Regions from separate parts of the Homo sapiens genome. Here region 2 is linked to region 1. The links come from fine-mapping of genetic effects on gene expression. Tissue or cell type: whole blood. Region 1 holds a variant in brackets; the other region holds the start of a gene. All regions are shown on one strand. Distances are between the middles of the regions.

Region 1 (2,901 bases):
GAAAGTCACTGTTAGGCGCTTAACAAAGGTGACATCATTTATCCCTCACAACAACCCTTAAGGTGGGCAGTATTAACCTAACTTTGTAGATATGTTAAGTCTCAGGGAGGTTAGTAACTCCAATGGACATATGGCCAACCAAGCCTGTCAGATTTCAAAACCCATGATCCTACAAAACACAACCAGGTGTTTTAAAAATGTGTTAGCTTCAAGAAAGTAAAATTAAGAACTTAGTCACCTTCCATTGTACTAAACTAAAAGTTATATGAATGTAACTTGACACTATGAGAGAGAAGGAGCATAAATACTAGTTTTAAGAGACCTCCTTAAAGATTTTAAGATTTTACAGCATGCAAAGGGAGGCTGTAAAGTCTTCTCATGTTTATAAAGACAGGGTAGGAAGGTGTCATCTTTCTAAGGCAATTACATATGGCTGCACAAAAGGTATATCCCAGTCTCACAAATCTATCACTTTATTTTGGTGAAAGCAGAGTGAAAGAAAAATATGCTTAAAAATAAATTCTCCTTACACCTTTTCCAACTTAAAAAACTAAACATTTTCTCATACTGGACTTTTTGAAAATTCACCTTGTTTGAAGTCTTTTTGGAAGACACAAGTGAAAGTGTATTAGCAGCAATATTACTCACAAATTACAGTTTTATTTTCACATGGAAAACAGAATTAACATTCAATCAGGAGCTCACATTCATTGCAGCGTTGACCTTAGCAATAGTGTCATCATCCGTTGGGAACTGGTATATCTGGACGCCATTGCTGACCAATTCACTCATGAGCTTGATCTTAAACTTCTGTAATTCAGTTTTAGAAACCGTATCTGCTTTGGCAATCACTGGTATAATGTTTACCTATTAAGAATAAAGAAAAACAAAATCTTACTGAGGATTTTTTTTTTTAATCCTGCAGCTGTTTTTTCACTCAAAACTGTTCATTCTGACAATGAATTTCCCTAAACCTAGATCGGGGGGCTGGCAAACTACGGTCCATCTCGCTGTTGATCTTGATACATAAAGATTTACAGGAACACTGCCATGCCCATTTGCTTGTGTACTGTCTACAGTTGCGTTCACACTACAACAGCAGAGATGAGTTGCTGCTGCCATAAACCACAGGGCCTGTGACGCCCAGTGTATTCTCAGCCTGGCCCTTTGCAGAAAAGGCATGCCAACCCTGACCCAGATGGCCATTCTCCTGTATATATACACCCCTTATACACTCATTCCTACAGATGCCAGCCACACAAT[C/CT]TTTTTTTTTTTTTTTTTTGAGATGGAGTCTCGCTGTAACCCAGGCTGGAGTGCAATGGTGCAATCTCAACTCACTGCAACCACTGCCTTCTGGGTTCAAGCGATTCTCTTCCCTCAACCTCCCAAGTAGCTGGGATTACAGGCACCTCAATCAATGCTTTCAGAAAGCAGAACTCTTGTAAGATTAATCTTTCATTTGAATTTAGGTTTAGAAATCTCACATTTTCTTCTCTCTCAAAATCTTGCAATTTCATCATACACTTAAAAAGTAAAATGTGATAAAAGGTAAACTGAATTGCCTCAATTCACTAAGAATTTTTATTTTTTAATAATCTAAGCACTAAGTAACCAGGGTGATTGATCCCTCAGCAAAACTAAAAGACAGGTGAAGCTTCTCTTTGTGCCTCGTTTCAGGACTGACTCCATGCCTACCTGTGCCCCACTGTCACAGACTTACTTAGACAGCAGAGGAAGGAAACTGTATGTACTACTATCTTAAAAGTGTTCATGATGCAAAGGAATAACTTTCTCAGTATTATTTGAAGTCCTATCACTGACAGAGGGCAAGAGATTTGGGGTTGTGAAGACCGAATAACTTGTAAATCTAGTTCTATAAGATTAATATCCCCACAAAAGACTGATAGCTCCACAAATTTGTGACTGGTGGTTCTTAAGTTTTTTAGTTTGTTTTTCATCAAAAACCTCAGGCTAATCAGTCATATGTATCAAGACAGTAAAACCTCAATGTAATTTTCAGATTAAAAGTAAAAAATTGACTGGGCGTGGTGGCTCACGCCTGTAATCCCAGCACTTTGAAAGGCTGAGGCAGGTGGGTCACCTGAGGTCGGGAGTTCGAGACCAGCCTGACCAAAATGGAGAAACCCCATCTCCACTAAAAATACAAAATAATTAGGTGGGCATGGTGGCACATGCCTGTAATCCCAGCTACTCGGTAGGCTGCGGCAGAAGAATCGCTTGAACCCAGGAGGCAGAGGTTGCAGTGAGCCGAGATCGCGTCATTGCATTCCACACTTCAGCCTGGGCAACAAGAGCAAAACTCTTGTTAAAAAAAAAAAAAAAAAAGGAAAAAATTATAATTCCTATTCTAAATTTTTTTATCTTCTCAAATTTCACATTGATGCCAAGTATATATCTGAATTTATCAGCCTTCCATATGCTCCCAAGGAGAGAAATTTTTTCTGTCTATGAAATTGATGGCAGAAAACTTTCCAGCAATCCTAAGTAAACAACTTTCCTGTTAAATTAGTCAAAGTACATAAACATTTTGGTGCCAAGTCCTTAGTTTCAATATTATATACTTAGGTATTCAACAAATTATGCCAAGTTAATAACTTATAATTGCTTGCACAATAAACTGCAGTAGACTGAATACTAAACATCAATGTTTACATGACTATTAGAGGGAGGGAAAGTAACAGATATTGCCCAAAGAGGGTCGCTTGTCACCAATGGCGTAAGAGAAGATAACTTTCCATGTCAAGCAGTCGAATGTTCTGCTTTTTAGTAACAGAAAACAACTATCTGGAGGTGGCCTGGGGAGTGGCAAGATGAGGTCAGCAAGGACACCACCTCTCATCTTTATGTAGTGCCCTTGTGTAAGTGAAAATTTCCCTACAC
Region 2 (2,901 bases), 46 kb after region 1:
TTTGTTTTTAAGAATACACAGGCATCGGGCCTCCAAACGGCGGTGAGATCACTCCATACCATGTAGCCTTTGGAAAACTCGATGTACACGACCTTGGTACTATTAACGAAAATAGTTGTAACCACACTTGGAAAACCGCTGGCTTACTAACAAGCGAGATAAATCTACAAAAGTAACTGGAAAGGTTCAAAACAGTGAACAAACGCGTTCTTTTAGAGTACAAAAGAGTCAAGGCGGGAAAAAAACGGTTTAAAATCCCAATGGAGGAAAACTTGGACGACCACACCATCGGATAAAACGGGAGAGCTTTTGAAAAGCCAGGGGAGCCGGGCTTTCTCCCGGCGGCAGGGAGGCTCGGAAGTGCTCACGGCTGCAAAAGATGACCGCTATTCAATCAGTCCGCACTGCGCCTTCAACTCCGTTATAGCCGTAAGAGACCCACAAACACCGCTGTGGATGTAACTTTTGGCAAAGACCGGGAAGTCGTTCAAGAACTCTCCCACCGTCCCGACGCTGGCGCCGCGCCCCGCGAACCGGGGTCCGGCCGCGCCCAGGCTCCGCAGAGGCTCCTCTCCCGCCCCAGGCGCCCGGCCGCCGCGGAAGCCGGGGAGCACTGGGCGGGCGGGGCCGGAGGGGGCGCGGGTCACAATCCCGGGCCGGACCAGGGGGCCGGTGGGTCGAGGGCGGGAAGTCCCGCGGGGGCCGGGGAGCGCGGGGCTGGGGCCCCGGCGTCGGCGGGACTCACCAGGTGCCGCGCCACCTCGGAGGAGGCCATGGTCGCGGGCAGGGGCACGGTGAAGCGGCTGTATCAGCCCGGCCCCGAGCGGCTGGTCCCGGCGACGGCGGCGGGAAGGCCGGAGGGCAGAAGCAACGGGCGGGGCGCGAGGCTAGGCTGCCTCCGCGACGGGGAAGGGACAGGGGCGGGGCCGAGCTGGAGGCCTCCGGGGGCGGGGTTGGGGCGGACGCCCTGTGGTGCGCGCTGAGCGTTTTGCCTGCGCCAAGCGAGCCCCTCACAGGAGCTACCCTCGACGCCTGAGGACTGAGCGTCAGCGTTGGGGCGGGCTGAAGGAGAGCTGGGACTCCAGGAAGACGGCGCGAGGAATGCAGGCGGGAACTGCGGAGCAGTGATTGCGGCCCTCGCGAGGCCGGAAGTGGGCGGGCCTTGAGGCGAGGCCGCCCTAGGTAGGTGTGGCCGAGACAGCGGGGAGCGGAAGTGGGCGTGGCCTGGTGGCGTGGGCGCGGGGCGGGGGTGCGGGGGGCGTGTCCGCCCGGGCGCGGCCCAGTGAGGCGGTGGCCGAGTCCTCTGGCCTCAGACGCGTAGGCTGGCAGCCCGCTGAGCCCGCCAGACTCCGCCGCCGTCGGGAGCCGGCCGCTGGGAGCCCGTCGCTATGGGACCGCGCTGAGCCGCCCGCTGGCGGGGGAGCAGCGCGGTCGAGGATGGAGGGGCCGGCAGAGTGGGGCCCCGAGGCGGCGCTGGGCCCCGAGGCGGTGCTGCGCTTCCTGGCGGAGCGCGGGGGCCGGGCCCTGCACGCCGAGCTGGTGCAGCACTTCAGGGGCGCCCTAGGCGGCGAACCGGAGCAGCGCGCCCGCGCCCGCGCGCACTTCAAGGAGCTGGTGAACGCCGTGGCCACTGTGCGCGTCGATCCCGCCGACGGCGCCAAGTACGTGCACCTCAAGAAGAGGTTCTGTGAAGGGCCGTCCGAGCCCTCCGGGGACCCGCCGCGAATCCAGGTGACCGCCGAGCCCGAGGCCCCCGACGGCCCTGCCGGGCCCGAGGCGCGCGATCGGCTCCCCGACGCGGCGGCCCCGGAGTCGCTCCCTGGACAGGGCCGCGAGCTGGGCGAGGGAGAGCCCCCCGCCCCCGCGCACTGGCCGCCCCTGAGCGCCGGGGCTCGCAGGAAGAACTCGCGGCGCGACGTGCAGCCCCTACCGCGGACTCCAGCCCCGGGGCCCAGCGAGGACCTGGAGCTCCCGCCACATGGCTGCGAGGAGGCGGACAGGGGCAGCTCCCTTGTGGGGGCTACCGCACAGAGGCCGGCCCGCCAGAACCTCCGTGACCTGGTGATGGGCAGCTCCCCGCAGCTGAAGAGGAGCGTGTGTCCCGGGGGCAGCAGCCCGGGCAGCTCCTCCGGGGGAGGACGCGGCAGAGGCGGGGGCGACTCAGACAGCGCATCGGTGGCCTCGTCGTCCGCGGAGGAGGAGAGCAGCGGCGGAGGCTCCGTGACGCTGGACCCCCTGGAGCACGCGTGGATGCTCTCTGCCTCCGATGGCAAGTGGGACAGCCTGGAGGGCTTGCTCACCTGCGAGCCCGGCCTGCTGGTCAAGCGGGACTTCATTACCGGCTTCACTTGCCTGCACTGGGCCGCCAAGCACGGCAGGCAGGAGCTTCTGGCCATGCTAGTCAACTTCGCCAACAAACACCAGCTGCCGGTGAACATCGACGCCAGGACGAGCGGGGGTTACACCGCCCTGCACTTGGCAGCCATGCACGGCCACGTGGAGGTGGTGAAGCTGCTGGTGGGGGCCTACGACGCCGATGTGGACATCAGGGACTACAGTGGGAAAAAGGCCTCCCAGTACCTGAGTCGGAGCATCGCCGAGGAGATCAAGAACCTGGTGGGAGCCCTGGACGAGGGTGACGGGGAAAGCGCCGCGGGTAGCGGCGGCGGGCGCTGGAGGCTTTCAAAGGTGCTTCCCTCGCATCTCATCACCTACAAACTCTCACACGCCCTAGAAGATGGAGGGGACCATCACCACCATCACCACTCGGCTGAGGGGTGGGTCGGAGGCAAAGCCAAGGATCCAGGGCGCAAAGCCTCGGGCAGCTCTAGTGGACGTATAAAACCCAGACTCAACAAAATCCGATTCAGAACCCAGATCGTCCACACCACACCCTCTTTC

The links.
Region 2: SOWAHC starts here. The variant in region 1 is fine-mapped to the expression of SOWAHC in whole blood (INTERVAL, PIP 0.98).

The regions. Positions count from the first base shown.
Region 1 is chr2:109,567,110-109,570,010 of GRCh38, forward strand. SEPTIN10 (septin 10) reads right to left here. Exons shown (of 11, transcript NM_144710.5): 6 at 706-867. It also overlaps a transcript of RANBP2 not described here. Among named protein-coding and RNA genes, the nearest start is that of SEPTIN10, 45 kb to the right of the region's middle. The variant C/CT (reference allele first, on the strand shown) is at 1,264.
Region 2 is chr2:109,613,053-109,615,953 of GRCh38, forward strand. It overlaps SOWAHC (sosondowah ankyrin repeat domain family member C), which reads left to right and starts at 1,312. Exons shown (of 1, transcript NM_023016.4): 1 at 1,312-2,901. The coding sequence starts at 1,438. It overlaps SEPTIN10 (septin 10), which reads right to left and starts at 914. Exons shown (of 11, transcript NM_144710.5): 1 at 746-914. The coding sequence starts at 775. It also overlaps a transcript of RANBP2 not described here. RefSeq lists an enhancer at 1-713 and silencers at 566-655, 686-935, 1,196-1,365.